2 separate regions of the Homo sapiens genome follow, and region 2 is linked to region 1. The links come from fine-mapping of genetic effects on gene expression. Tissue or cell type: whole blood. Region 1 holds a variant in brackets; the other region holds the start of a gene. All regions are shown on one strand. Distances are between the middles of the regions.

The links. PIP is the estimated chance that this variant, and not a neighbour inherited with it, causes the effect.
Region 2: GOLPH3 starts here. The variant in region 1 is fine-mapped to the expression of GOLPH3 in whole blood (TOPMed, PIP above 0.99).

The regions. Positions count from the first base shown.
Region 1 is chr5:32,197,209-32,213,647 of GRCh38, reverse strand. No RefSeq gene overlaps it. Among named protein-coding and RNA genes, the nearest start is that of GOLPH3, 31 kb to the right of the region's middle. RefSeq lists a silencer at 1,884-2,043. The variant C/T (reference allele first, on the strand shown) is at 9,068.
Region 2 is chr5:32,167,530-32,183,968 of GRCh38, reverse strand. GOLPH3 (golgi phosphoprotein 3) reads left to right here and starts at 9,650. Exons shown (of 4, transcript NM_022130.4): 1 at 9,650-10,159. The coding sequence starts at 9,935. RefSeq lists a silencer at 9,757-10,366.

The sequences.
Region 1 (16,439 bases):
TACATATAATTACTTGAGTATTTTAAAAAGCAGTCCATGAAAGGTGCATAGTACAATGTTGGTCATAGGGAGTGCTTAGTAAACGTTGACTTTTTTTTCTAAAAACTATTTTTATTTCTAGAACTACTTCCTTGTGTTTGGGTAAATGGTAAAGGAGAAAGAAAGAGTGGCTTTTATCAATGATCAGTTTTCAAGGAAATTACATTATGCAAATACTTTATTCTTTATCTCATTTAGTAGAAATCAATATCGCCCCTCCATGTTAGCCATTTTTTCTTTCCTATTAATTACATCACAGATCTTATTCTCAGAAATAGATCAAATCAAACTGAATTTGTCTTTGCACTCATACTACAAGAATACATTTACAAAAATCTCATAAACACAAATCGTCATAATCATAATAATTATATTGTGGGCCAGGCGCAGTGGCTCACGCCTGTAATCCCAGCACTTTGGGAGGCCAAGGTGGGTGGATCACAAGGTCAGGAGTTCGAGACCAGCCTGGCCAACATAGTGAAACCCCATCTCTGCTAAAAAATACAAAAAATAAGCCAGGCGTAGTGGTGGGCACCTGTAATCCCAGCTACTTGGGAGGTTGAGGCAGGAGAATCGCTTGAACCCAGGAGGCAGAGGTTGCAGTGAGCTGAGATTGTGCCATTGCACTCCAGCCCAGGCAATAGTGTGAGACTGTAAAAAAAAATAAAAATAAAATAATAAAAAAATCATATTGTGAGGTATATTAACTGACATAAGAAAATGTCCATAATATTTTCTTTTTTTTACATTAAAAAATGTTTGTGGGTACACAGTAGGTATATATATTTGTGGAGTACATGAGATATTCTTTTTTTTCTTTTTTTTTTTTTTTGAGACAGAGTCTCACTCTGTTGCCCAGGCTGGAGTGCAGTGATGCGATCTCTGCTCACTGCAAGCTCCACCTCCCGAGTTCAAGTGATTCTCCTGCCTCAGCCTCCAGAGTAGCTGGGACTACAGGTGCCCACCACCACGCCCAACTAATTTTTTGTATTTTTAGTAGAGACAGGGTTTCACCGTGTTAGCCAGCATGGTCTCCATCTCCTGACCTCGTGATTCACCCACCTCGGCTTCCCAAAGTGCTGGGATTACAGGCATGAGCCACCGCACACGGCTGAGATGTTCTGATACAGGCATGCAATGTGAAATAAGCACATCATGGAGAATGGGCTATCCATCCCCTCAAACAGTTATCCTTTGTGTTACAAACAATCCAATTAGACTCATTTAAAAATGTGCGATTAAGTTATTATTGGCTATAGTCACCCTGTTGTGCAATCAAATAGTATGTCTTGCCACAATATATTCAGTGAAAAAAGTATGAATTTAAAAATCATGGCCGGATGCTGTGGCTCACACCTGCAATCCTAGCACGTTGGGAGGCCGAGGCGGGTGGATTGCCTGAGCTCAGGAGTTCAAGACCAGCCTGGGCAACACAGTGAAACCCTGTCTCTACTAAAAATACAAAAAATTAGCCAGGCCTGGTGGTGGGCACCTGTAGTCCCAGCTACTTGGGAGGCTGAGGGAGGAGAATTGCTTGAACTCGGGAGGTGGAGGTTGCAGTGAGCCGAGATCATGCCACTGCACTCCAGCACTCCAGCCTGGGCCACAGAGTGAGACTCTGTCTCCAAAAAAAAAAAAAAAAAAAAAGTCAAAATTCTAGTTTAATTTACATAAATGCATGGAAAAGTAGCAGGAAAACATTCCCAAATGTTAAGATAAGTTATCTCAAAGCAATGGATTTATTGGTCATTTTTTTCTCCTTTTTATATATTATTTTATTTTTATTGACACATTAGATGTTCATATATTTGGGGTTATATATATATATATATATATTTATTTATTTGAGTTGGAGTCTCGCTCTGTCACCCAGGCTGGAGTGCAGTGGCTTAATCTCAGCCCACTGCAACCTCTGACTCCCGGTTTCAAGCTATTCTTCTGTTGCAGCTTCCTGAGTAGCTGGGACTACAGGCACCTGCCACCACACCCAGCTAATTTTTGTATTTTTAGTAGAGATGGGGTTCTCCATGTTGGCCAGGCTGGTCTCAAACTCCTGACCTCAAGTGATCCACTCGCCTCAGCCTCCCAAAGTGCTGGGATTACTGGCATGTGCCACCACACTCGGCCTCTTTATATATTTTTTAATTGAACTTTTTCCCTACAATGAACTTGTGAGTTAGCTATTGATTTTTTTCCCTTTGGTTGCGAAAGAGAGAAACCCAAATTGATTGTGCTTTAACCAAAGGGGGAAGTTGTCATAAGGATCCTGTTCTATCTCAGAAACTCAATGACAGGAAATAGCAGGGCCTCCCCAGTTACTGGAACCAGAAATGCAAATGCTGCCTACGTTCTTTCTCCATCTCAGGGGCTCCTCTCAGTTTGTTTACTCTGTTTCCTCCCCACTTTCTCTCTGGATCAGTTTTCTCTGGTCCAAGTGAGGGAAAATGTGCATCCTAAAGCCCCTGACTTAAAAATTTATAACCCTGGGACTTTCAGATCTAAATCTCCAGAGTAAGGATTGAGAGTGTCTCAGCTGGGATAAGTACACAGCCCTGAGGCAGTCACCTGCACACGGGCAGAATCATGGCGCACTGACATGGCGGCTTCCATGGTAATCATGTGTGGTGTGCATGTGCGTGTGTGTACAGAAGAGTACATGTACTGTCCACACACACACACGTACCCCCCACACTATTTACAAAGCAATAGTCTTCACAACAACATGGAACTTTATCAAAATTAGAAAAAAAATCTTTAAAATCTTATAAATTGTGTATAACATTGTAAATCAGCATTTATTTCTACCTCTCATTTTTAAACACCTAAACTCATACTTTTTTTTTTTTTTTGAGATGGAGTCTCTCCCTGTCACCCAGGCTGGAGTGCAGTGGCTCGATCTCAGCTCACTGCAACCTCCACCTCCTGGGTTCAAGTGATCCTCCTGCCTCAGCCTCCCGGGTAGCTGGGATTACAGTTGTGCACCACCATGCCTGGCTAATTTTTCTATTTTTAGTAGAGATAGGTTTCCACCATGTTGGCCAGGCTGGATAATACACTCATTCTTAATTAGTGGTCTCACAAATTCTCTCTACTAGTCACAAAATGTAGAGAGTATCTTCTTCAACCATGTCATTTTAGAGAGGATAAACTCAAGCCCAGAGGGGTGAAATGACTTGCCAAGCCACCCCCCCCAGGGGGTTCACGGAATGTCCTCTCAGCAGTTTTCGTGCCAAGTGCATTTCTTCTCCCCTGCCCAAACCACCCATCCTTCATTCACCCTCTCCACACCGAGCTTGGGCCCCAAGACTATTCAGAACAAAGTCTTGGAAGCACAGTGGACCTGGTGGTCCCACAGCACTGCTGCTCTATTCAGCTGCATTTCCTAGACCTGGACACCCACTGAGTCTCTTCAGTCTCTTTTCATGCATAATTAACTCTAACTCACAGATCATAGGCAGGGCAAAGGTATACCGGAGGGGGGTAGGCATATTCCAAACAAAGGGAGCCTCCTACCTCCAAATGTTACAGATTGTTCATCTGGGAGTCCAAATACCTGAACACATACCTCCACGTATGTATTTTTAGTAGAGATGGGGTTTCTTTTTATTATAACATTTTATTACAACAGGATGGAGACCAGGCGTGGTGGCTCACACCTGTAATCCCAGAACTTTCAGAGGTCAAGGGAGGAGGATCACCTGACCCGGGAGTTTGAGACCAGTCTGGGCAACACAGGGAGATCTCATCTCTACAAAAAATTTAAAAAATAGCTGGGCAAAGTGGTGCATGCCTACAGAACCAGCTACTCAGGAGGCTGAGGCAGGAGGATTGCTTGAGCCCGGGAGGTCAAGGCTGCAGTAAGCTGTGATCACGCCCCTGCACTCCAGCTGGGCAACAGAGCAAGACCCTGCATCAAAGAAAAAACAAACCAGGATGGCAAAAATGCTAATTTTTTTTTTTTTTAATTTATTTTTTTATTGATAATTCTTGGGTGTTTCTCACAGAGGGGGATTTGGCAGGGTCATGGGACAATAGTGGAGGGAAGGTCAGCAGATAAACAAGTGAACAAAGGTCTCTGGTTTTCCTAGGCAGAGGACCCTGCGGCCTTCCACAGTGTTTGTGTCCCTGATTACTTGAGATTAGGGATTGGTGATGACTCTTAACGAGCATGCTGCCTTCAAGCATCTGTTTAACCAAGCACATCTTGCACCGCCCTTAATCCATTTAACCCTGAGTGGACACAGCACATGTTTCAGAGAGCACAGGGTTGGGGGTAAGGTCACAGATCAACAGGATCCCAAGGCAGAGGAATTTTTCTTAGTGCAGAACAAAATGAAAAGTCTCCCATGTCTACTTCTTTCTACACAGACACGGCAACCATCCGATTTCTCAATCTTTTCCCCACCTTTCCCGCCTTTCTATTCCACAAAGCCGCCATTGTCATCATGGCCCGTTCTCAATGAGCTGTTGGGCACACCTCCCAGACGGGGTGGTGGCCGGGCAGAAGGGCTCCTCACTTCCCAGTAGGGGCGGCCGGGCAGAGGCGCCCCTCACCTCCCAGACGGGGCGGCTGGCCGGGCGGGGGGGCTGACCCCCCCACCACCTCCCTCCCGGACGGGGCGGCTGGCCGGGCAGAGCGGCTCCTCACTTCCCAGTAGGGGCGGCCGGGCAGAGGCGCCCCTCACCTCCCGGACGGGGCGGCTGGCCGGGCAGGGGGGCTGACCCCCCCCCCACCTCCCTCCCGGACGGGCGGCTGGCCGGGCGGGGGGCCGACACCCCCACCTCCCTCCCGGACCGGGCGGCTGGCCGGGCAGAGGGGCTCCTCACTTCCCAGTAGGGGCGGCCGGGCAGAGGCGCCCCTCACCTCCCGGACGGGGCGGCTGGCCGGGCAGGGGGGCTGACCCCCCACCACCTCCCTCCCGGACGGGGCGGCTGGCCGGGTGGGGAGCCGACCCCCCCACCTCCCTCCCGGACGGGGCGGCTGGCCGGGCAGGGGGCCGACACCCCCACCTCCCTCCCGGACGGGTCGGCTGGCCGGGCAGAGGGGCTCCTCACTTCCCAGTAGGGGCGGCCGGGCAGAGGCGCCCCTCACCTCCCAGACGGGGCGGCTGGCCGGGCGGAGGGCTGACCCCCCCACCTCCCTCCCGGACGGGGCGGCTGGCCAGGCGGGGGGCTGACCCCCCCACCTCCCTCCCGGACGGGGCGGCTGGCCGGGTGGGGGGGCTGACCCCCCCATCTCCCTCCCGGACGGGGTGGCTGGCCGGGCTGAGGGGCTCCTCACTTCCCAGTAGGGGCGGCCGGGCAGAGGCGCCCCTCACCTCCCGGACGGGGCGGCTGGCCGGGCGGGGGGCTGACCCCCCCACCTCCCTCCCGGACGGCACGGCTGGCCGGGCGGGGGGCTGACCCCCCCACCTCCCTCCCGGATGGGGCGGCTGGCCGGGCGGGGGGCTGACCCCCCCCCACCTCCCTCCCGGACGGGGTGGCTGCCGGGCGGAGACGCTCCTCACTTCCCAGATGGGGTGGCTGCCGGGCGGAGAGGCTCCTCACTTCTCAGACGGGGCAGCTGCCGGGCGGAGGGGCTCCTCACTTCTCAGACGGGGTGGTTGCCAGGCAGAGGGTCTCCTCACTTCTCAGACGGGGCGGCCGGGCAGAGACACTCCTCACCTCCCAGACGGGGTCTCGGCAGGGCAGAGGCGCTCCTCACATCCCAGATGGGGCGGCGGGGCAGAGGCGCTCCCCACATCTCAGACGATGGGCGGCCGGGCAGAGACGCTCCTCACTTCCTAGATGTGATGGCGGCTGGGAAGAGGCGCTCCTCACTTCCTAGATGGGATGGCGGCCGGGCGGAGACGCTCCTCACTTTCCAGACTGGGCAGCCAGGCAGAGGGGCTCCTCACATCCCAGACGATGGGCGGCCAGGCAGAGACACTCCTCACTTCCCAGACGCGGTGGCGGCCGGGCAGAGGCTGCAATCTCGGCACTTTGGGAGGCCAAGGCAGGCGGCTGCTCCAAAAATGCTAATTAACAGGAAGAAAAAAATTACTCGGTAGGGCAGACAGCCTCTAACATGGCTCCCAGGGTTCATGGCTGTGTAATCTTCTCTCCTTGTGTATGGGTGAACCTAGTCACTTGCTTCCAACAAACAGGACATGGCGCAAGTGATTAGATCACAGAAGACTGTGATACCTCTTTCCCTTTTGTGGAGCCCTTGGTTTGAGAAAGGGAAGCTGTCATTTTGTAGAGCTGCCCTATGGAGAAGTCAATGTGGCATGAAAGTGATGTCTCCGGCTGACAGCCATTGAGGGCCTCAGGCCTCCCAATGGCCGCACGAATGAGCTCAGAAATGGATCCTCCCCCATTTGAACAGTGAGCCAGAAACCTGGTCTACAGCCCCACACCAAACCTTGACTGCCGTTTTGTAAGAGATCTGGAGCCAGAGGATCTGGTTAGGCCATCCCGCCTTACAAAAACTGTCCCACAGAAACTGTGAGATCATAAAAATTGTTTGGTTGTTTTAAACTACTAAATTTGGGGGGTAATTTGTTATGTAGAACAGTTGGCTAAAACACTTAGTCAGCAGCCGCCTCACGTTGAGAAGATGTAAATTTCATGAAGGAAGGTTACTTCTTGCTGAGCTGGAGACTAAGCTGAAAGCGAAATTTAAAGTGGAAAGATCTAGCAGAGCTGTGCCTACACATCTGGTGGCAGGTAATTTTGCCACAGTCCTTAGTAGATCACCAAGGGTTTCCTAATACAGAATGTAATCTATTTTTATTTTATTTTTCATGATTCTTTTGGAAACAAGGTTCTTTTTAAGGAAATGGGTGTGCATTGAAAATTATTTTTGTTCTGTCAACAGAATTGTTAAATAAAATATGAGTCACTAGGCATGGTGGCTCACGCCTATAATCCCAGCACTTTGGGAGACTGAGGCGGGAGGATCATTGGAGTCTAGGAGTTCAAGATCATCCCGGCCAACATAGTGAGACCCGTCTGTACAAAAAATAAAATATTAGCTGGCCTGTAGTTATTTCCAGCTATGTGGGAGGCTTCAGCCCAGGGAGGTTGAGTTTGCAGTGCGGCATGATCACACCACTGCACTCGGCATGGGTGACAGAGTGAGATTCTGCCTTAAAAAAAAAAAAAGATTCTGAGCCTATATCTGTAATTGTTTAGGAAAAATGGATTTCCTCCATTTTCAGCTAACACAGATGTTTTTGATCATAGTAGCATATTGTAGTTATCAATAGCATAAACTCGGACCCCAGACTACCTAGGTTCCAATCCTGGCTTTGTGACTTTCTAACTATAACTCTGGGAAATTAATTAATCTCTCTTTACCTCAGTTTCTCCATCTGGAGAATGGGGATAATAGTGGTATGTACCTCATAGGGATTTTATGAGGATAACATGAATTAATACATTTAAAGTTAGCCTGGGCAACGTGGCAAAACCTTGCCTCTACAAAAAATTCAAAAAATTAGCTGGGCGTGGTGGCACACGCCTATAGTTCCAGCTACTCAGGAGGTTGAGGTGGGAGGATTGCTTGAACCCGGGAGGCAGAGGCTGCAGCGAGCTGTGATTGCACCCCTGCACTCCAGCCTGTGCAACAGAGTGAGACCCTGTGTCAAAAAAAAAAAAGCTTCAAACAAAATAGTGTGCAGCATACAGTTAGTGCTATGAGGTTAGCTGCATGTTAGGAGAAGGTCAGAGAGGCACACTGGGTGAACCAGTTTGCAGAATCTACCCTAGGAACACTGCACCATGCGGTGAAAGTTCATGTAGCAAACACCCTCCCTTCCAAGTGCTGGACAGACTAACACCTTAAAGTTTACACAGAAGAGAAACCGTGCTTCCTCTGATTCCAACTTTGGAAAAACTCAGTCATGGGTATTTTAAATAGTTAATGTGGCCAGGGACAGTGGCTCATGCCTGTAATCCCAGCACTTTGGGAGGCCAAGATGGGTAGGTCACCTGAGGTCAGGAGTTCAAGACCAGCCTGGCCAACATGGTAAAACCAGTCTTTACTAAATATACAAAAAAGTTTAGCAGGGCATGGTGGCAGACAGCTGTAATCCTAGCTACTTCGGAGGCTGAGGTAGGAGAATTGCTTGAACCCAGGAGGCGGAGGTTGCAGTGAGTGGAGATCATGCCGTTGCACTCCAGCCTGGGCAACAAAGCAAGATTCTGTCTCAAAAAAAAAAAAAAAAAAAAAAAGTTAATGGATGTGATTTCTTTCCTGTGTAATGCTTTTAATTTGTACACCATCATAAAAGACACTACAAGTATTTTTTGTTTTGTTTTGCTTTGTTTTGTTTTTAAGATGGAGTCTCACTCTGTTGCACAGGCTGGAGTGCAGTGGAGTCATCTCGGCTCCACTGCAACCTCCACCTCCTGGGTTCAAGCGATCCTCCTGCCTCAGCCTCCCAAGTAACTGGGAGTACAGGTGCCCACCATGCCTGGCTAATTTTTGTATTTTTAATAGAGATGGGATTTCTCCATGTTGGCTAGGCTGGTCTTGAACTCCTGACCTCAGGTGATCCACCCACCTCGGCCTCCCAAAGTGCTGAGATTACAGGCGTGAGCTCAGCATAAGGCACTGCAAGTATTAAGAGCAGAGCAGGGCCCTGAAGGACTCCTTGTTCCCTTTCCCCCACCTCCCTTTACTAAAGCTCCTCTGGGAAGAAGAGTCTGTGGAGAGCAGGGCAGAGGCAGAGCCCCTTGCTCCCTGGGACTGCCCCTGAGTCCCCTGAATATGTGCAGAGGAATGTCAGCATTCCTGCCCTGCAACCCATAATGTTGACTTGGGAATCTGAGTAGAGGAGACCTATGTCTCACTCCCCATTGGTAGCCCCCAAAAGAGCACATTTCGTAGAATTCCCCACACACCATGGAAAGGGCTGGTAGGGTAGATGATGGGGTGGCAGGGCCGGGGGGCATATCATAAGAGAAGTCCGAGGTGGTCTAGAGTGGCAGGGGAGAAGAGCAAGATGATGGTTTCCATACCCCCAAGAGTGGTCTGGAGGAG[C/T]GGAGAGAGGGTCAAGGAATCCAAAGGGTCTTGTGCAGGACGGGGACACGCAACCGCAAAGGCCAGGAGAGAGCCGCCTTCTACTTTTCTCTCATCTGGTCCTGAGGTCTTCCTCCAGAGAGTGGCTGTAAACTAGCCGAGCCCTGACAGGTCTTCAGGAGATTTGATCACGATGTTTATGATGTGCCTTTTAGGGGACTCCTCTCAATTTTAGCAGCTGACCTGATGCCTGTGTCCAACTCTCTATCAGCTGTCCCTCTCACAGGATAGACTTGTTTATCCTGGCAGACACACTTGCGGCTCTTGTCTGACCTCTGTCCAGTTTATTCCTGCCAAGACCACCACTCCCTAGGAGAGCCCTGGCCGGGAAAGGAGCTGGGTTCTGCGTGGCAGTTAGGTGAGATGTAAAAGCGACATCTCAATGAAACATATGAAATAACAGAAGTAGTTTATGACTTACAGATCCCAGAGGGAAGCGGGTGACTGCCTCACACACAGGGCTAATGGAAGGAGGGTGCTATCTTGGGACATGTGCGCTCCATCAACAAGTGGGGAGCAATAGACAGACAGAGAAACCTGTGGGTTTGGGCTCCAGGATGTTCCTCAGGTGAGTTTCCTGCAGGGAGTTCTACCTGGCAGGTTAACAGCAAGCAGGTGGCAGATCTCCGGAGTCACAATGGGACTGCAGCATATGTACAAAGTGCAGTGCGGGGATCAGTGGGACCAATGAAGTGGGTTGTATCCTGTTGTCCCTGGGAGGGAGTGGTCACCAGGTAGTGGTTGCATAAGGCAGACATCTGGATCCATTGCATTGAGGAACTGGGCAGAGGCAGAAAATGGGAAACTGGCCGGGCGCAGTGGCTCACGCCTGTAATCCCAGCACTTTGGGAAGCCGAGGCGGGCAGATCACGAGGTCAGGAGATCGAGGCCATCCTGGCTAACACGGTGAAACCCTGTCTCTACTAAAAAATACAAAAAAAGTTAGCCGGGCATGGTGGTGGGCGCCTGTAGTACCAGCTACTTGGGAGGCTGAGGCAGGAGAATGGCATGAACCCGGGAGGCAGAGCTTGTAGTGACCTGAGATCAGGCCACTGCACTCCAGCCTGGGTGACAGAACGAGCCTCTGTCTCAAAAAAAAAAAAGAAAATGGGAAACTGTGTCAAGGGTGACTAAACCTTGCCTCTGGTATGGGGAAGTCCACTTGTGTTCAAAATGAATGCAAAGTAAAATTATAGGAATTCACTACAAAGCTCCTTTCTCATGCCACGTCTTAGTATGGTTTAAGAGGATCTCCCCTTAAAGCCTATATGGGACGCTAGAAAGAAGTGGGAAAACCCGGAAATGACTGAAAACATCCTGAATTGACAGTTTCACCCAAATTGACTAAAATTAAGTTTTCATACAAAAGCAGAGTGAAGGCTTTAGATAGAAATTAAAGGCTGGGTGCGGTGGCTCATGCCTATAATCCCAGCACTTTAGGAGGCCGAGGCGGGTGGATCACTTGAGGTTGGGAGTTCGAGACCAACCTGGCCAACATGGTGAAACCCCATCTCTACTAAAAATACAAAAATTAGCTGAGCATGGTGTAGTGTGCCTGTAGTCTCAACTGCTCTGGAGGCTGAGGTGGGAGAATTGCTTGAACCCAGGAGGCGGAGGCTGCAAAGCCGAGATCTTGCCATTGCACTCCAGCCTGGGTGACAGAGCCAGACTCTATCTCAAAAAAAGAAAAATAAATAAATAAAGTCTAATTATAGACACACAAGATTATGTTTTTGCACACCTAACTTTGTATTCTGGATAATAAACTGGCAGGCTTTACTTAGTCATACAAGCTGAAATGTGGTTGGAAAACCATAAATTATACCATGAAATGTTCATTATATAAGAGGTTAAAAAATTCAGATTAGGATTTCTTCCCTAGTTCTATTTGGACCATGTGTGGACTTGGTGCAATGCTGGGTGGATATTTCCCTAAAGTATCATCAGTATTTCTAAACACACATTTCCACCCAACAACTGATCTCATCTACTGGAATGATTTCTCTTGAACTAACATTGGTGTTCATGAAATAAAACAAAAAGTCTTAGTCATAAGTGTAGCTGCTCTTTGGAGGGCAAAATCAAATGGTTGGGAGCAAATAAAAATTAAATTTTAGGCCGGGCATGATTTTGAATAATTCCAAACGTAAAGAAAAGTTGCAAAAATAATAGAGAACTCTCATATAGCCATGATTCAGATTAACCAAATTTTTTTTTTTTTTTTTTTTGAGATGGAGTCTCGCTCTGTCGCCCAGGCTGGAGTGCAGTGGCACAATCTCCGCTCACTGCAAGCTCTGCCTCAAGGGTTCACACCACTCTCTCACCTCAGCCTCCCGAATAGCTGGGACTACAGGTGCTCGCCACCACGCCTGGCTAACTTTGTTTTTGTATTTTTAGTAGAGACGGGGTTTCACCATGTTAGCCAGGATGGTCTCAATCTCCTGACCTCGTGATCTACCTGCATTGACCTCCTAAAGTGCTGGGATTACAGGCATGAGCCACCGCGCCCAGTCCAGATTAACCAACTTTTTTACATTTTGCCACATTTGTTTAATTATTCTCTCTTCTTCCCTCCCTCTGTATTTATTTTTTCCAAACCATTTGAGGTTATAAAGATCATGCCTTTATTATACTCTTAATACTTCAATGTGTAGTTCCTAAGAACAAATATAGTTTCTTACATAATCCAAATACAATTATCAAATCAGAAAATTTAACCTTGATACGTACTTTCACCTACTCTATAATCCATATTCCAATTTTGTCAATTATACCAATAAAGTTCTTTACAGCATCCCCCCAGTCCAAGTTTCAACCAAGGATCACATATATGCCTGAAGGGGTCATGTTTCTCTAATCTTCTTTAATCTGGAATGGTTCTTCAGAATTTCTTTCTCTTTCATGACATTGATATATTTAAAGAACACAAATCGGTTGTTTTATAGAATGTTCTTCAGTTGGGCTTGCCTGGTGTTTCCTCGTGACTTAATTCAGGTTTTTGGTCCCCTGCCAAACTATGAAAAAAGTGATGTTATATTCTTTTCAGGGTACCTGGAGGCACAGTGTGTCAATCTGTCCCTGGGTTAATTTTAGTCACCTGATCCCAGTATTGTCCAGTTTCTTCACTGATAAGTTACTATTTTTCTTTTGCAACTAATAAGTAATCTGTGGAGAGCCACGTTAGGACTGACTAAATATCCTGTCTTTCATCAGACTTTATCTCCCTAGATTTAGCAATCAATGCTATTTCTTGCCCAATTTTTTGCTTTGATGATAGCAAAACAGTGATTTTTCAACTCCATCCCTCCCTCCACATGTATCAATCTAATGTACATCTCACTATAAGGAAAGCCCTCCCTTACTACCTCCATCTATTTATTTACCTACTTATCAGCTGCCTGAATTGATGATTAATTTTTTTTTTTTTTTTTTGAGACGGAGTCTCGCTCTGTTGCCAGGCTGGAGTGCAGTGGCGCGTTCTCGGCTCAGTGCAACCTCTGCCTCCTGGGTTCAAGCGATTCTTCTGCCTCAGCCTCCGAAGTAGCTGGGATTACAGGCATGTGTCACCACGCCCGGCTAATTTTTTTGTATTTTTTTTAGCAGAGATGGGATTTCACGGTGCTGGTCAGGTTAGTCTTGAACTCCTGACCTCGTGATCCACCCGCCTCGGCCTCCCAAAGTGCTGGGATTACAGGTGTGAGTCACCGCGCCTGGCCTGATGATTAATGTTTTATTCAATAAGTTGTAATCCTTTACTGTCCTGATTTATTTTTAGCTCAAAATTATCCCAGACTTGGCCAGCGGGCTCTCCTTCTCCTTCAAACTAGCTCTTGTCCTTTTGACATGTCCCGATATTTTCCTTCCCTTCCCCTTCCTTCTCCTCCCCTCCCCTCCCCTTCCCTCCTTCCCCCCTCCCAACTCCACTCCCCTCCCCTCCCCTCCCTCCCTCCCTCCCTTCCTTGCTTCTTCCTTCCTTCCTTCTCACTTTCTTACTTTCTGGCATATCAGAATGTTCCTGTGTTCCTGGCTAACCTTGTGCTTTTCCTGCCCCAGCCCCGTATCCAGCCATTCTTCCAAGGAGTCCCAATTTTTTTTAAAGATAGAATAGGACTTAGAAAGACATGGGCACACCTCTTGCATTTTAAATGAGGAACTCATTGACCCCCAAAAAACATTGCTCATGATTGAATTGTTGGTATTCTGTCAGGTTAAGATTGTATTTTTCATTTGTTCCAAAATAAAGTAGAAGTATCCCTTGCCATTTCTTCTGAATATAAAAGCAATATATAATCACTATGAAAAATTCAGAAAATAAAAGCTAAGAACATATTAAAAATCACTTGTTGTTCTATCACTTAGAGTTAACCACCTTGAGATATTAATGGTGATGGTCATCATTAGGCAACTGTAATACTTCCCAGTATGAATGCACCAAAAATAATATATTTCACCAAAATACAATTGTTGGATATTCCCAGTTTCTCTGTGTGTGTGTGTGTGTGTGTGTGTGTGTGTGTGTGTGTGTATTTCTTCTGGGTAAAGTCCCAGAAATGTAATTGCTGGGTTAAAAATGTATGCATATTTATAAGCAAAGAAAATGTGCTCAACATTATTAATCATCAAGGAAATGAAAATTAAAACCACAATGAGACAGTGCCTTCATGTTTCCATGAAACATGCTCATAACACTCCACATATTTTATATATTTACACAAATATGTAAAACATGTTTAGCCAGCAATACCAGTTGTCGGCAAGAATGGAGAGCAACGGCTGGGCGCGGTGGCTCACACCTGTAATCCCAGCACTTTGGGAGGCCAAGGCGGGCGGATCACCTGAGGTCAGGAGTTCGAGACCAGCCTGGCCAAAACGGTGAAACCCTATCTCTACTAAATATACAAAAATTAGCCGGGCCTGGTGGCGGGTGCCTGTAATCCCAGCTACTTGGGAGGCTGAGGAAGGAGAATTGCTTGAACCTAGGAGGCAGAGGTTGCAGTGAGCCGAGATCGTGCCCCTGCACTCCAGCCTGGCGACAGAGTGAGACTCCTTCTCAAAAAAAAAAAAAAAAAAAAAAAAGAATGGCGAGCAACTAAAACTCTCTATACCACTGGTAGAATTGTAAGTCCTAATAACCACCTGTAAACACACACACACACACACACACGCACATAACTGAGCTACTTCCATGGAAATAATTTACCTGGGGTAGGAGAAAAACAAAAGTGATAATTGTGGAGTGTTATGAGCATGTTTCATGGAAGGGGACAGGGAGGGAAGTAAAGGATGGTAATAAGTTTCAGAAATGAAAGATGGAGGGACCTCCCTGCTTCCATCACGCCACTTTGTTACTCTCCCTACTTTACTCCTGATGAAATAGCACAGTGGAGAGACCACGGGGGCTGGACACTGGTACTTCATCTTGTCTATTTCAGTCATTTAAATCCCATCAGCCAAAGAACTGATCTCTTCAATCTCATCTTTCTAGATCGTAATTTCATATCATCCCTGTCTTAAGGTTCAACTCTTAGTTCAAATTCTAATAGCCTTTATAGGCTTATTTTTCTATTGCAAACCAAAAACATTCTTTTATTTTTGAAGTTAGGCAATCTGAAAGATGCCTGTCAATGAACACACAAACCACCATTGAAAAGAAACTTTTTGTCTGGGCGTGGTGGCTCACGCCTGTAATCCTAGTATTTTGGGAGGCTGAGGCGGGTGGATTGCCTGAGCTCAGGAGTTCAAAACCAGCCTGGCCAACATGGTGAAACCCCCGTGTCTACTAAAAATACAAAAAACATTAGCCGGGCATGGTAGCGCATGCTTGTAGTCCCAGCTACTCCGGAGGCTGAGGCAGGAGAATTGCTTGTACCGGGGGAGGCGGAGGTTGCAGTGAGCCAAGTTTGCACCAGTGCACTCTAGCCTGGGTGACAGAGGGATACTCCATCTCCAAAAGAAAGAAAATAAACTTTTCTCATGAGGAACAAGTGGGAGATGTCAGGTCAGTGGTAACTGGAATAGAATTGACACCCCAGCCCCTTAAGAGCTTGGTTAAGAGTGGGAGCACATCTCAGACTGGTGGGTGTGTCTTTGATGTAGCTGGAAGAATTGCCACTGTTTTACTAACATGTCAGGTGCAATACAATTCAGTGTGTAAGGCCCATCTGACATTTATGTTCCTCTTTGCCCAGTGATCTGGCCTTTGCAGAAAGCAAACCTACTCATTTCTCCCCTTTCCCCTTTTACTGAGACAAATAAATAAATAAAAATAAAACTGACAGGACAGACCAAAAGGCTGAAAAGAGCTATGATTTCAGACTTAGCTAAGGCTATATTACCTCAAAGTGGGTAACGACCTTTGGAAAAGATATTAAAATTTCCAGGTCATGAGGTACCCATTAGTATAATCAGGCAAAATGTATTAGCAGAGGCTAATAGGATAAAAGAATCAATGATGGGCCGGGCGTGGTGGCTCACGCCTGTAATCCCAGCACTTTTGGAGGCCGAGGCAGTTGAATCATCTGAGGTCCGGAGTTCAAGACCAGCCTGGCCAACATGGTGACATCCCGTCTCTACTAAAAATACAAAAATTAGCCGGGCATGGTGGCATGCACCTGTAAACCCAGCTACTCGGGAGGCTGAGGCAGGAGAATCGCTTGAACCTGGGAGGTGGAGGTTGCAGTGAGCTGGGATCACGTCACTGCACTCCAGCCTGGGCGACAACAGCAAAACTTCGTCTCAAGAAAAAAAAAAAAGAATCAATGATGCTTCCATGTTGTCTCCAGGGTGGCTGTCTATAGTGAGAGATGACTAATTCTAATGGAAACTTTCTACATTTGTGTTATAAGCCTTCCTTTCTTTCATTTTTTTATTTTATTTTTTATTTTTTATTTTTTTGAGATGGAGTCTCGCTCTGTCGCCCAGGCTGGAGTGCAGTGGCACCATCTCAGCTCTCTGCAACCTCTGCTTCCCTGGTTCAAGCAATTCTCCTGCCTCAGCCTCCCGAGCAGCTGGGATAACAGAAGCCTGCCACCACGCCTGGCTAATTTTTGTTATTTTTAGTACAGGCAGGGTTTCACCATGTTGGCCAGGCTGGTCTTGAACTCGCGACCTCAGATCAGCCTGCCTCAGCCTCCCAAAGTGCTGGGGTTACAGGCGTGAGCCACCCCGCCTGGCCTTCTTTTATTTTAAAAGCCTATAATATAACCGAGTATTAACTTTACCCAAGGAACTAAAAATAGTAGAGTTACCAAGAATGGTAAACCTATTTCAAGGCCACTTTCATTAAGAAACTCTTTGGGAGAGTGAAATTGCTTTCCAATTGCTCGTCTCAAAT
Region 2 (16,439 bases), 30 kb after region 1:
TTGTTCAAAACCAATTAACCATAATGTGAGGCCGGGCGCGGTGTTTCACGCCTGTAATCCTAGCATTTTGGGAGGCCGAGGCGGGCGGATCACTAGGTCAGGAGATCGAGACCATCCTGGCTAACACAGTGAAACCCTGTTTCTACTAAAAATACAAAAAATTAGCCGGGCGTGGTGGTGGGCGCCTGTAATCCCAGCTACTCAGGAGGCTGAAGCAGGAGAATGGCATGAACCTGGGAGGCGTAGCTTGCAGTAAGCCGAGATCACGCTACTGCGCTCCAGCCTGGGCAACAGAGTGACTCTGTCTCAAAAAACAAACAAACAAACAAAAAACCCATAATGTGAGCATGTATTTCTCTTAACTATTTTTTGTTGTTTTAAAGTCTACTTTGTTTGATATTAGTATAGTCACTCCAGGTATTTTGTGGCTGCTGTTTTTTACCATCTTTTTATTTTCAACTTACTTGTATTTGTGGCATAACAAATTGCTATAAGTTCAGTGGCTTAAAACAACATATGTTTATGATCTCACTTCCACAGGACAGAGTTTGGCATGGCTTATTGGGCCCTCTGCTTAGGGTCTCACGAGGTTGTAATCAAGGTGTTGGCTGGGTTACACTCTCATCTTGACCTAAGGGTTTTCTTCCAAGCTCATCACGTTGTTGGCAGATTTCGGATGCTTGTGATTATAAGAGGAGACCATTAGCTCTTAGAGGCCACCTTTCTCCATAGGCAGTTCACACATGGCTGTTTTCTTCTTGAAGGCCATCAGAAGAGCATCTCAGCTGACTCAAGTCTCCCTTGTTAGGGAAGGGTTAGAGCCTCTTTTAAGGGTCCACCCGATTATGTCAGGCTCATTATGTCAGGCTCATTTAATGTCTTAGTTCATTTTGTGTTGCTATAAGGGAACACCTGAGACTGGGTAATTTATAAAAAAAAGGTTTATTTGGCTCATGACTGATTCTGCTGGCAGGAAGACCACGCATCTGATGAAGTCCTCAGGCTGCTTCCATTCATAGTGGAAAGCAAAGGGGAGTTGGTGTCTGCAGAAATCACGTGGTGAGAGAGGAAGCAAGAGCGAGTGAGAGGGGAGGTGTCAGGCTGTTTTTAGCAACCAGGTCTCACAGGCACTAACAGAATGAGAACTCACTTGCTCTGCCCCCGACACAGAGGGCCTTAGGCCCTCTGTTTGATCCTCCAACATTGAGGATCAAATTTCAAATTTCTTTTCTTTCTTCTTTTTTTTTTTTTTTTTGAGACAGGATCTCACTCTGTTGCCCAGGCTGGAGTGGACTGCAGTGGAATGATTATGGCTCACTGCAACCTTGATGTCCCTGAGCTCGGGTGATCCTCCCATCTCAGCCTCCCAAGTAGCTGGAACTACAGGCACACACCACCATGCCTCACTAATTTTTTGATTTTTTGGTAGAGAGAGGGTTTCACCATGTTGCCCAGGCTGGTCTTGAACTCCTGGGCTCAAGTGATCTGCCCACCTCAGCCTCCCAAAGTGCTGGGATTATAGGCATGAGCCACCGTGCCCAGCCAGAAATCAAATTTTCAACATGAGACTCGGAGGGGACAAACATTCAAACTATAGCACCCAGGAGAGTTTCTCTTTTGATGAACTCAATATGAATTTATTAGGGGCCTTTTTTTTTTGAGATGGAGTCTAGCTCTGTCACCCAGGCCGGAGTGCAGTGGTGCGATCTCAGCTCACTGCAAGCTCTGCCTCCCAGGTTCACGCCATTCTCCTGCCTCAGCCTTCCTAGTAGCTGGGACTACAGGCACCTGCCACCACGCCCGGCTAATTTTTTGTATTTTTAGTAGAGATGAGGTTTCACCGTGTTACCCAGGATGGTCTCAATCTCCTGACCTCGTGATCCGCCAGGCTTGACCTCCCAAAGTGCTGGGATTACAGGCGAGAGCCATCGTGCCCCACCTATTAGGGGACTTAATTACATCTGCAACATTCTTTCACCTTTTGCCACATTCTATTAGTTAAAAGCAAGACAGAAGTTCTGCCCACACTCAGGAAGAAGGGACTAGAGAAAAATGTAAATGCCGGGGATAAGAATCATGGGACTATCTTAAAATTAAGGCTACAATCAACGGACATGGGCCAATGTAGAACTTCTCTGTACAGGCCTTTTATCTGTTTTGATTTTGAAGTACATGAATTTATTACTTACTCAAAAATAAAATAAAATTTAGTCTTTGTATTTGCCTCAGACTTTTATGTCTTTTACCACAAGGACCTCATTGTGTAGTTGTTTTGGCCCTAAAATCATTAAGTTATTATCAGGTCCTGGTTAAGAACATGGACTCCAGAGCCAGGCTGTGTAACCCTGGGCAAAATCTTGAATCTTTCCGTGCCTGTTTCTCTTTTCATAAAATGGGCTAATTACAGTACTCCTAGCTTAGGTCTCTCTTCCCCTTGTTACAAAGTCACCAGTCCCACTCCCATGATAACCCATTAATCCATTAATCTGTAAATGGATTAATCCATTCATGAGGGCAGAACCATCATGACCCAGTCACCTCTTAAAAGCTGTACCTCTCAATACTACTACATTGGGGCTTACATTTCAACATGAGTTTTGGAGGCACAAATATTCAAACCATAGCAACCTGAAAACATTTACAGCCTTCTCTGGAATATATACATGCTTAATAAATATTTGCAGCAGATTTTTTTAAAAAGAAGATTGTTGAAAGCCTCTGGAAGATTTGCTAGTTAGTTCAATAATGCTGCTGTGTTTCAGAATAAAGCTAGTGTGGAAATGTAAAATGATGCAGCCACTCTGGAAAACAATTTCCCAGTTTCCTTTTTTTTTCTCTGTTTTAGATCCAGGTACAGACTGGATCTCAGTTTCTTAAAACAAACAAACAAACAAATTAAACACATATAATTACCATATGATCCAATTGCACTCCTGGGTGTTCATCTCAGAGAAATGAAAACTACATCCAAATAAAAACATAGGCCAGGCGCAGTGGCTCACGCCTGTTATCCCACCACTTTGGGAGACTGAGTAGGCGAATCACTTGAGGTCAGGAGTTCGAGACCAGCCTGGTCAACATGGTGAAACCCCATCTCTACTAAAAACACAAAAATTAGCAAGGCATGGTGGCACGTGCCTGTAATCCTAGCTACTCGGCAGGCTGAGGCAAGAGAATTGCTTGAACCCGGGAAGCGGAGGGTGCGGTGAGCTGAGATCGTGCCACTGCACTCCGGCCTGAGTGACAGAGCAAGACTCAGTCTCAAAACAACAACAACAACAACAAACAAATAAAAACATGTACATGAACGTTCATCGCAGTTTTATTTGTGATAGCCCCAAATTGGAAACAACCGGAAAGTCCTTCAATGGATCCATGGTTAAACAAATATGGTACCTGAGTACCATGAATTACCACTCAGCAATAAAAAGGAACAAACTATTGGTGTATGCAATTTGGACAGATCTCAAGGGAATTATGCAGAGTGAAAAAAGCAAATCTCAAAAGGCTTCATAATGTATGATTCCATTTATATAACATTCTCAAATGACAAAATTATAGATGGAGAACAAAGTAGTGGTTGCCAGGAGTCGGAGATAGAGTCGGGAGAGGGGCTGGAGCTGCCATGACTGTAAAGGGGCAACATGAGGGATCTCTGTGATGATGGAACAATTTTATATCTTTTTTTATTTGTTTATTATGTTTTTTAGAGACAGGATATTACTCTGTGACCTAGGCTGGAGAGCAGTGGCACAGTCAGAGCTTACTGTAGCCTCAAATTCCTGGGCTCAAGTGATCCTCTTGCCTCAGCCTTCCAGGTAGCTGGGACTACAGGCATCGCCACCATGCCTGGCTAATTTTTTTTAAAAAGTCCGTAGGGACGGGGTCTCGCTATGTTGACCAGGCTGGTCTCCAACTCCTGGGCTCAAGCAATCCTCCTGCTTCAGCCTCCCAAAGTGCCGGAATTACAGTTGTGTGCCACCATGCCTGGCTTATTTTTATATGTTGATTGTGGTGGTATTGACACAAATCTACATGTAGTACAATTGCATAGAATGACACACACATAAATCAATGCACATAAAACCCATGAAATCTGAATAATGTCTGTGGATCATACCAATATTAATTTCCTGGTTTTGATAGTGCTATAGTTACATGTTACTACTGGGGGAAACTAAGGGTATACAAGCTCTCTCTGCACTAATTTTGCAATTCCTGTGAATTTATTTCAAATTTTTAAAAATCAGATTTTGAGTCATGATAATAAAGGCTTCTTCTCTCCTTGATTACAAAAGAATTTACCCATAGTTTTCTTCTGGTGCCTTTCATTTTCTAGGCATTTTGAAATTTTTATTGGGTTAAAACAGAAAGACTCTGGGCCGGGTGTGATGGCTCACACTTGTAATCCCAGCACTTTGAGAGGCCGAGGCAGGTGGATCACGAGGTCAAGAGATTGAGACCATCCTGGCCAACATGGTGAAATCCCACCTCTACTAAAAATACAAAAATTAGCTGGGCGTGGTGGCGCGTGCCTGTAGTCCCAGCTACTCAGGAGGCTGAGGCAGGAGAATCACTTGAACCCAGGAGGCAGAGGTTGCATCGAGCCAAGATCGTGCCACTGCACTCCAGCATGGTGACAGAGCAAGACTCCATCTCAAAGCAAAATCAAAACCAAAAAACAACAATAAAAAAAACCCAGAAAGACTCTGTACATAGAACTACCTACACAACAAATTCTCTTGGAAGTTTTATATACTTCTTAAAAGCTTAACTGAAATAAACTCACGCAAACCTGGTCATTGCCCAGCGATCCCTATATCATCCTCTCCTACACAAGCCAGAAGTGGGAGTAATCCTCGACATCTCCGCTCCTTTATGCCCCAACACTCCGTAGTCAGTCTTTCATTGAGTTGTGTCAGTTTAACTTACTAACTATCTCTTGAATACATTCACTTACCACCCTTTCTTCTTCCACTATTGTGGTCGAACTTACCATCAGGTTCTGTAGGACTACTGCAAAAATGAGCTGCTTCTGTATCCTATATCCATGCCTTGGGTATATCCTGCAAGCTTTTCAAAATGCAAATCTGGTAACATCTCTCACCCACCCATCTCCTCTTCCCCCACGGAGGGCATTTAAAAGTACCCTTGATAGCTTCCCATTGAGTTTGGTTGGATAAAGACCAGATTTTGGCCAGGCACGATGGCTCACACCTGTAATCCCTGCACTTCGGGAGGTCAGGGCGGGCGGATCGCTTGAGCCCAAGAGTTCAAGACCTGGGCAACATGGTGAAACCCTGTCTCTACAGAAAAAAACAACACACAAAAAAACAAAAATCAGCAGTGTGGTGGCATGCACCTGTAGTCTCAGCTACTTGGGAGGCTGAGGTGGGAGGATCGCTTGAACCCAGGAGGCAGAGCCAAAATTGCGCCACTGCACTCCAGCCTGGGCAACAGAGCGAGACCCTGTCTAAAAAAAAAAGACCCAAATCTTAAAATGGCCTTAAAATGGACAGCACTGTATGATTTGGACCTTGTCTGTAACTATTGCTTTTGCCATCACTCCCTCCCTCAGCCCAGGTAAAAACTCTTCTACTTGGTTCTCCTCCATCCCATGATCTGTCTTTTGCTACAGGGCCTTTGCATATTTCCTCTCAGGAATGTCCTCTACCTCCAACTTGGTTAACTTCAGTTCATTCTTTGGCTTATGACTTCTTCAGAGCAGCTTTGAGTCCCAGATAAAAACTTAGGTTTCTCACATATATGACAGTACATGATCTCATAGGACTGTATTCCTTCTTTCAAAGCATTTCTACATTTCTACATTAATTAGCATCAGGATTTGCTTAATATCTGTGCCCTTCATTAAACTGTCAGTTTCATGAAAAGTATGGCTATGTCTCTTTTGGCTTAGTATTGTATCTTTATTGCTTATGACAATGCCTGGCATGCAGCAAACATGTAGAAATATACTTGTTTGATACTGAATTAAGGACCAGGGTTCTAATCCAGGTCTGTGATTTTCCAGAAGTGTTAAGTTGGGCAGATTACTTAACTTCTCTGAACTGTTTCTTCATAGGTAAAATGGGCATCTTAATCTGTGTTCCCTAGGAAGCAGGGCCTAAGACAAAGTCTTTTGTGCTTTATTAGGGAGTGCAACAGCTGGGAGCAGAAGCTAGTGGAGGGAAGCGAGGAGTGAAGGGGTCGTTGAGCTTGCTGGAGCTAAATGCTACTGAGAAGTTGTATAAACGATCTCAGGACAGTTCATGTGAGGAAAGAAAGGGGTCCTGTTATCCACCTGCTTGAAGTGCTTACTCTCCCACACTTGTAGGTAGGCATGGAGGTGCTGCCAGACCGCACTGCATGAGATGGTTGCAGTCCATGTGGAGCTGGTCAGCACAGCAGCAGCACCTAACCTGCAGGGTCCTGGTGGGGGTTGCTGGAGACCGCGCCTGGCACATCTCAGCAGGCAATAAACAAACAATCAAGGCCAGGCGCGGTGGCTCATGCCTGTAATCCCGGCACTTTGGGAGGCCGAGGCTGCTGGATTGCCTGAGGTCAGGAGTTCAAGACCAGTCTGGCCAACATGGTGAAACCCCGTCTCTACTAAAAATACAAAAAAATTAGCTGGGCGTGCCAGGCGCGGTGGCTCACGCCTGTAATCCCAGCACTTTGGGAGGCCGAGGCGGGCAGATCACCTGAGGTCAGGAGTTCGAGACCAGCCTGACCAACATGGAGAAACCCCGTCTCTACTAAAAATACAAAATTAGCCAGGCGTGGTGACACATGCCTGTAATCCCAGTTACTCGGGAGGCTGAGGCAGGAGAATCGCTTGAACCTGGGAGGCAGAGGTTGCGGTGAGCCGAGATTGCGCCATTGCACTCCAGCCTGGGCAACAAAACTCCGTCTCAAAAAAATAAATAAATAAATAAATAAATAAATTAGCTGGGCGTGGTGGCATGTGCCTGTAATCCCAGCTACTCGGCAGGCTGAGGCAGGGGAATTGCTTGAACCTGGAGGTGGAGGTTGCAGTGAGCCGAGATCACGCCACTGCACTCCAGCCTGGGCGACAGAATGAGACTCTGTCTCAAAAATAAATAAATAAATAAATAAAAATTTTTTAAAAAGTAACACTCATTGTTGTAATTAGGAATATTCTCATTCCTAAAATTCCTTCTTTTTTCCTTCCTAAAATATCCTTTCTTCCTCTTCCTGTTTTTAAAATATCTCCTTCCTTCCTCCCTCACTTCTTCCCCAGCTGCCCTCCACCCCCACCCATCATGATGGCTGGGGGTGGAGGGCAGCTGGGGAGGAAAAAAGCTGCATAGACTTTCATGACCTGAGAAGTGCCACACAGTCATGTTGGCCACATTCTATTCATTTCAAGAGAGTCACTAAGTCTGGCCCACACTCAGGGGGAGGGAAATTAGGCTTCACATTTTGAGGGGAGGAGTATCAGAGGATTTGTTGGCATTAAAACCTTCAGGAGAGAAAGGAGAACAACTGGGTGAACAGGGGCAGAGCTGGGAGGGAGATTTTCACTACACATATCTTTGTACTCTTTGAACTACATACTTGACTATATTAGTCAAGTAATTTTTTTTTTTTTTTGAGACGGAGTCTCGCTCTGTCACCCAGGCTGGAGTGCAGTGGCGCAATCTCTGCTCACTGCAAGCTCCGCCTCCGGGGTTCACGCCATTCTCCTGCCTCAGCCTCCCGAGTAGCTGGGACTACAGGGGCCCGCCACCACGCCCGGCTAATTTTTTGTATTTTTAGTAGAGACGGGGTTTCACCGTGTTAGCCAGGATGGTCTCGATCTCCTGACCTCCTGATCCGTCCGCCTTGGCCTTCCAAAGTGCTAGGATTACAGGCGTGAGCCAACGCGCCCAGCCAATTTTTTTTTTTTTTTTTTGAGACAGGGTCTTGCTCTGTCTCTCAGGCTGGTGTGCAGTGGCACGATCACCCTCATGGCAGCCTCAAATTCTGGGCTCAAGCGGTTCTCCTGCCTCAGCCTCCCGAAGACCTGGGACTACAGATGTGGGCCACTACTCCTGATTAACTTTTTTCACATAATAAATTAATTACATTTATTTTACAAAGAAATATTTCAAGCTACAACATTTGGTAAAATCAGAAAAGATGAAGAAAAAAGGTCCAAAGAGGGTGTGGGCTGGCGCGGTGGCTCACGCCTGTAATCCCAGCACTTTGGGAGGCCAAGGCCGGCGGATCACGAGGTCAGGTGATCGAGACCATCCTGGCTAACACGGTGAAACCCCGTCTCCACTAAAAATACAAAAAATTAGCCAGGCGTGGTGGCGGGCGCCTGTAGTCCAGCTACTCAGGAGGCTGAGGCAGGAGAATGGCGTGAACCCGGGAGGCAGAGCTTGCAGTGAGCCGAGATTGTGCCACTGCACCCCAGCCTGGGCAACAGAGCAAGACTCCGTCTCAAAAAAAAAAAAAAAAAAAAAAAAAAGAGGGTGTGAATGGGAGAAATTGGTTGAGGTGAAATCGACCTTCACCAAGACAGGTGGGAAAAAGGGAAGGTCTACTTGGTGTGCCCCCTGGACCCTCTCTTCCCTTCATTTAGCACTGTCACTTTCCAGGGCATGGGATGGTAGGCAGCAGCAGTTCTGGATAATGGATTTGTGGAAGAGAAGAATCCATCTAAAGCACTCTTTAGCCACAGCCCATGATCACTTTTTTTAAAAAATTTTTATTTTTTGCTTTGCTGTTGTTCCACTCTGTCCATACATTGTTTAATACAGGATGGCACACAATACCATTCCTGGTTAAATGTTTCACTTAACAAGCGCCACCCTCTACTCCTCCAACTCCTGTCTCAGGTTTGACAGCTATTTTTTTAACCTAATTTGCGCACGCCAAGAGGATTTCACCTAGTAACTACACGGAGAGACATCCGATGCGTACAAAGACGTGGCATGAAACGCTGCAGGTTTATTGTCTCTATAAAAAGATCGTTAAGGTCGAGCGTGCTAACGTGTGCGGTACTAACTGTACTCACTACGCCCTGGTCACTTTATAGCACAAGTCCGAGGCAAGGAAAGAAGTTTTACAAACAAAACTGGTCAACTGTTCTATCTTCTTACTCCTGGAAAACAATAAAGGTCCACTTTCAAACCATTTGGACGCACTTGCTCCTTCTAAAGGGTTAGGGAGTCCCGGCAGATAGCGTACCCCTCCCCGCCCAGCAGCAGAGAGCAAAGTCCTTCCTGCCGATCCTGCAGACCCCGGAGTCCAAATGGGACCCCGTCCACACGACCGCGGAGTCGCCTCCGAAGACGGCGGTGTCTGGGGCGTGGAGGGCACGGCTGGAGGCTGAGTGGGGTCCACCTTCGCGTGGCCCAGGCTCTTCCATTCACGGGGGGCCCCGCCAGGTTCAGGCTCCAGCCCTGGGTAGTGAAGGGGAAACGGGGAACGGAAGGAGGGAGGGCACGTCACGGGAGCAGGACTGCAGGACCGCGGGTCAGGGGGCGCAGGAACGCCAAAGAAAAGACAAGCACCGAGGGCCGGGAAGGGTGTAGGCTGCAGTGGCAGCGGATCCCCGGCCGCCGCTTCCGGCGCCTCCCGGCCCAGCTCTCCCGCGCCGACTCTGCCACATCCTCCGGTGACGTCAGCCGGGGCCGCCATATTGGAAAGGCGCCGCCGCCGCCTCCGCCTTGGAGCTCGGGGTGTTTCGGGGACTGCGGCCACAGGCAGGAAGGCGCTCCTCTCCTGCCCCGCCGACGCCCGGCCAGCCCGCTTCGCCCTGACCTGTTTCCTCATGACTGCCCCCGGCCCTGCTGCCGACGGACGTCGCCCCGGCGTCCGGATTTAACACGGAAACCCGGATCGGAGGCCGCGCGGGGAGGAGGAGGGCGACCCGGTCGGTCCTGCGACCCTCTCGGCCCGGCTCGGCGCCTCGGCGGGAGCCATGACCTCGCTGACCCAGCGCAGCTCCGGCCTGGTGCAGCGGCGCACCGAGGCCTCCCGCAACGCCGCCGACAAGGAGCGGGCGGCGGGCGGCGGCGCCGGCAGCAGCGAGGACGACGCGCAGAGCCGCCGCGACGAGCAGGACGACGACGACAAGGGCGACTCCAAGGAAACGCGGCTGACCCTGATGGAGGAAGTGCTCCTGCTGGGCCTCAAGGACCGCGAGGTGCGGGCGCGGCGGGCTGGGCGGGGGGCGGCGGCGCGGGGCCCGGGCGCCAGGTGAGCTCCAGGTAGGTGCCAGGTGAGCGCCCGAGGCTTCCGGCCCGCGCACCTGCCCTCGCTCCGAAGTCCGCGCCTGGTGGCGCCCAGCTGACGCCGAGCGGTGTCGGAGTTGGTTGACCCCCTGGCGCGGCTGGTGCTTTCTGGATCCTCCCCGTAGAGATGGCTTGGATTTTTCCTTACCCCTTTCACAGTCGCTCCTTTCATTTCGACACCCTGGCAGTTTGTATTTCTTCGTCGCCTTTTTTCCGCGTTTTTAACCCGTGTAGACCCCAGGGTGCAAATCCAACCCGGAGACTGCCCGGGAAACTAACAGCTGGAGCCACCAGCGCCACGAACTCTTTGGGTTTTTGCAGGCTTTAGGACCTGGGAGGGGTGCCCGGATCTGCTTGCTGGGGATGTTTTTTTTTTCTTCTTCTTCAGTTAAAGCTTACTGTTGGGAATTACGAAAAACGTAGGCGAAGTGGTAATAGAGGGAAAAGCTCTTTTACTGAGTAAAGTTAAGTTAAGTTTCTCATGAAACCTCCTGGTAAATGACTTTCTAGGTGAACTTACATTAGGTGAGAGATTATTTTTAGTATCGCTTTTATATTTTATCAGTTGATGAATCTCAAAGTCTTGCCGTCTTAAGAAAGGGCTTTTTCATCGAGTGCTTGAAATGTAGGTTTGTGAGTTGATCAGAGGCCTCAAAGCTTCAGGTGGGTTGAAGTTGCAATAGATAATTCTTTGTATTCTGACTTTGAAAGCGTTTATTTTCACTTCAGTGTCCAAAATTTTCACACACAGAAAAGTTGAAAAAGTGATAGATACATATGCATATATACTCTTTCTAGATTCTATGACGTTTTGCTGTATTTGTTATATTTGCCTACAAAAATGATTATTTATTTATGTGGAGACGGAGTTTCGCTCTTGTTGCCCAGGCTGGAGTGCAATGCCGCGATCTCGGCTTACCGAAATCTCCGCCTCCCGGGTTCAAGCGATTCTCCTGCCTCAGCCTCCTGAGGCAGGCATGCGCCACCATGCCCGGCTAATTTTGTGTTTTTGTTTTGTTTTGTTTTTGAGACGGAGCCTCAGTTTGTCGCCCAGGCTGGAGTGCAGTGGCGCGATCTCCACTCACTGCAAACTCCGCCTCCCGGGTTCAAGCGATTTTCCTGCCTCAGCCTCCCGAGTAGCCGGGACTACAGACGTGCGCCGCCATGCCCAGCTAATTTTCATACCTTTAGTAGAGACGGGGTTTCACCATGTTGGCCAGGATGGTCTCGATCTCTTGACCTAGTGATCCGCCTGCCTCGGCCTCCCAAAGTGCTGAAATTACAAGCTTGAGCCACCGCGCCCAGGCCTGATTTTAAGAAAGTTTTCCAAATTCAGGAAGGTGGGCAAAAAAAAAAAAAAAGTCTTACAAAACAACGTAATCTTTCTTGGTCACTGAAACTTACTAGATATAGGCGAGTTTTATATGGACCGTTTATGGACCTTTCTTATTTAGAAATCTAATGAACTAACGGTTAGCTTGATAGATACGTCTGGGGCATTTGCCATATCTTGGTTTCCCATTTCTCAGGTTTTAATAACAGTAACCTTGAAAAAAGTTGATGTTCCTCTGGCTGTGAAAGGGCTGCTGTACCTGTTTAATTATTGAGTTGTGATGATAAAGCAGGCTGTATGTGCAGTTCCTTGTTCTTTGGATGAAAAAGTAAACTAGGGGTATAGCGTCCTAGTAATGTAATTTTTAGAAAATATTCAACTTTAGGTTTCAAAATTGGAAATCTTGATTATAAACATTTGTCTTTTTTTTTTTCTTTTTTTAGACGGAATCTCGCTCTGTCGCCCAGGCCTGGAGTGCAGTGGCGCCATCTGGGCTCACTGCAACCTCCCCCTCCCGGGTTCAAGCGATTCTCCTGCCTCAGCCTCCCAAGTAGCTGGGATTACAGGCATGCACCACCACGCCCTGCTAATGTTTTTATTTTTAGTAGAGACGGGGTTTCACCATGTTTGTCAGGCTGCTTTTGAACTCCTGACCTCAAGTGATCCACTTGCCTCGGCCTCCCAAAGTGCTGAGATTACAGGTTTGAGCCACCACGCCCGGCCATAAACATTTTTCTTTTTGGACAAAAATAACATTATTATAGACATTTTAGAAAATACAAAAAAAAAGAAAAGCAAAATTAAAACATATTCCTGAGTGAACATTTTGGTTTATAGTTTTTGAGAGTTTTCCGTGTGGATAAAACTCGGTGGAAAACAAAAACCTGAAAAAAAAAAAACTAAAAAATAAGCTTTTGGTGTTCTGAGTCACACTGAGAAATTATAGTGAGGAAATACCTATTTGTTTTTTCAAGTACATGTTACTCTAAATCAAGCTTTTCCAACCCGCGGGCCAAATGTGGCCCAGGATGGCTTTAAATGCGGCCCAACATAAATTGGTAAATTTTCTTAAAACATTATGAAATTTTTTTTGCAATTTTTTTTTTTTAAAGCTCATCAGCTATTGCTAGTGTTAGTGTATTTTATATATGGCCCAAGACAGTTCTTCCAGTGTGGCCCAGGGAAGCCAAAAGGTTGGACACCCTTGCTCTAAATGTTTAAGGTGAAGCATATTAACATGCTGTTTTTCGGTGATTGGGTCTTAAGAAGATAATCTAAATAATTTGTTGAAGTTTAACCATACTCACATAATTTAAACAATTTAAAGTTATTTGGCGGGTAATTGAAACCATGTGTTCTGTTTATTTTGCATCAAGAGTCACTCATTATACTTTGCTAGTCATGGCTAAGGTCCAGATGCTTGCTAGCTTATTGTGAGCATTTCTTCCTGATTTCAGCAACCACATGGGGAAATTTTTTCTCTTTTTTTTTAGGCAAGTCCAGAGAGTTGAGGGGTGGGGTTGAGACTACTGGGATTTTGTATTGCTTTAGGTTTTGGTTTTAGGGATTAGCCTATATATTTTTTCCTTTCATCACATCTTTAAAATTTTTTTTTTTAAGAGATGGAGGTCTCAAGATGTTGCCCAGGCTGCACTCAAACTCCTGGGCTCAAGTGATCCGCCCTGAGTAGCTGGGAATACAAGGTGCATGCCATCAAGCCAACTCATCATGTCTTTACACTCTAATAACCAGCCCTGTCAACTTATCTGTTGGTATGTTTTTCCCTTGGGAGGCTCGCCACCATGTTTTTAACCTATAGTACTCTTTTTAGGAGGCAGGAATTGCTGTCTTACCCTGAGCCCAGGCGTTTATGCTAACTCATTGCTTTAACTGATTTTTACTTCAGCATTTATCTTTTTAATGTCTGGATTCTCCTAAGAACTTTAAAAGCTAAACTTTACATTTAAGCAAATCATTAATGTTGGAAATATTTTATATATGTGAGCTAATAACCTTATGTGAATATACTTGTTAAACCAGTACCTAGAGCAAGAAACAGAAGCCCTAGCCCTCCACTTGAGTATCTTTCCAGTCACTACCCATTCCTCAGGGGTAACCACTGGCTTAATATTAGAATTCAGCATAGATTAATTTTGCCTAGTTTTTTGTACTTTGTGTCTGCTTTTTGTTCAATGTGAGATTCATCCATATCGTGTGAGATTGTCCTTTGTTCTTATTGTCTTACCAATTTATTTTTAACATGTTTATAATCTATAATATTTAAAAAATTACTTTGACATATTCTGAGTCAAGTCTCCCTCTCTTTTTTGCTGAACAGAAGGTTCAGTTTTTGAATAAGCAGATGGTCTGGCTTCAGATTACCTGTTAGGAGTGAGTCTAAAGTCATTGTGATTGATTTTTTTTTTTTTCTTTACACATTTCAGATTTTTTTTTTTTAACCAATGATATTTGTTTTTTGCTTTTATAAAACAGGGATGGCTAGTCCCCTCAGAAGATTTTCATGCTCACTTGGGCAGAGAATCAGTGCATAAGTATTTAAGTAACTCTTTAAAGACCACAGTAAGGATGGCAGATAGTTTACACCTAAATTCAACTGCCAAGTAATTAGCAGTATTTCTTTAATTGACCCAGTGTTTGAGGGGGAGGGACAGCAAAAGTGCCAGGTATTTTCCTTTCCCTGTGTGTGTTTATTCTATAGATGCTTTCCATAGAATATTTTCAGGATGCTTTATTGAGAATTACCACAAATAACTGGTGTCATATATGTTTGAATGTCTTCATTGGTGGCAAATCTTAGTCTTTTAAGGTTAGATTTAATTATTTTCAGTGGCCAAGTATAATTTGGAGTATGCCTATGGAACAGCAGAAGCAGAGAGAGGCTCTATAGTCCTGTCCAAAGTGTATTCTTTGGCTTTTACATATAATTTAAGCCTTCTGAGCTTCAGTGTTTTCATGTATAATGGAAAAGTAGTCATTCCATATGATGGTTCTGATTGTACTGCTGTGGATGTTTATTAACTCCTCCCCAGGTCTTCGCTTTATTTTGTATTACTTTAGGGTTTCCCCATAGTGTGTTGCCTGTTTTTGAGACAGGGTCTTTCTTTGTCACCCAGGCTGGAGTGCAGTGGTGCGATCTTGGCTCACTGCAGCCTCAACCTCTTGGGCTAAAGTGATCCTCCTGCCTCAGCTTCCCGAGGAGCTAGGACCACAGGCACACACCACCATGCCCAGCTAATTAAAAAAAAATTTTTTTTTTATAAAGACAGGGATTTCACCACATGGCTCAGGCTGGTCTTGAACTCCTGGGATCAAGTGATCCTCCCGCTTCAGTCTCCCAAAGTGCAGGTATTAGAGGCATGAGCCACCGCACCTGTTTTTTTTTTTGTTGTTGTGTTTTTTGGTTTTTGTTTTAAGACAGATTGTGCTGTGTCGCCAGGCTAGAGTACAGTGGCGAGATCATAGCTCACTGCAGCCTCGAACTCCTGGCCTCAAGTGATCCTCCCGCCTCAGCCTCCCAAAGTGTTGGGATTACTGCGACCGGCTCTAGGATGCACTCTTGAAGCATATTATTCCCCTGCTGTTTTGTCATGCAGCCAGACTTGTCCAATCATATGTTTTCTTTCAGGGCTTTGGATCTTGAGAGAATAACGAGCTGTAGGGTTTTTTGGAGACCTTTCCAGAGTCATGTCAGCGTGTGGATCAGACTGTTCTTTGGCATGGTTCTTTGAGCTGCTTTCTCTGGTCTGTTGGCACTGTTTTTTTCCAGTCTGATTTTCCAGTCATCTTTCAGTGTTGTGAGTTTCAACAGCCTTCCAGTAAAGTTGCTTTTTAAAGATAGCCAGAGTCAGTTACTAATGTTTCTAATGCTTGTAGACAAGAACTGTAATACAGTAACTTAACTCTATGTCTTGAAAAATAAGTAGGTACTTGAGGTAAATAATATGTAATGGGGTAAAATACTTAAGATTAACCAAAATGATAGAACTGACTTTTGTGTGGCTTTTACACAGGCTCCAAAGATGTTTTCCATTTTTGGAATAAGGTTCCCAAGGTCACTACTTTGAAGTATAATAGTGATGAAGATGTATAACTTAACAAAAATTGTTTTCCTTTCTATACGTGTGGTGATGTCCACCATCTCTACATATCAAATCTGTAAATCAGAAATTCAGTCAACAAGTATTCAGAATTTCCAGATGTGCTGAGTTTTAGTAATTTAAAATATAATAAAGGCTTCTGAGTTTTTAATGAATTTTCGTTGTTTCTAAGACAAATGATATTTCCTTCATATTTTTTGAAGTTTTGAATTTTTATCTATTTTTTTCAGGTGTTTAAACACAGGTATGAGATATACAGGATCTCAGAAATTACTTTTGAAGTTCATTAAACTATTTGATTGTACTTTTTTTCTTTTGAGACAGGGCCTAGCTTTGTCTTCCAGACTGGAGTGTGGTGGTGTGATCATGGCTCATTGCAACCTCGACCTCCTGAACTCAAGCAATCCTCCCTCCTCAGTCTCCTGAATAGCTGGGACTATAGGCGCACCCTATCATGCCCAGCTAATTAAAAAAAAAAATTTTTTTTTGTAGAGACGTGGTCTCACTATGTTGCCTAGTCTCGAACTCCTGGCCTCAAGCAATCTTCCCGCCTTGGCCTCCCAAAGTTCTGGGATTACAGGTGTGAGCCACCACGCCTGGTCTGCTTATTATACCTTTTCAACAAGATTTTATACTGTTGAAATTACTTTTTAGTGCTTTGGGATTCTTTTACAATATGGTCAAAATATTCACTAACTCATCTCATAAGTTATACTAATATTTGATATTTGTTAATTTTGG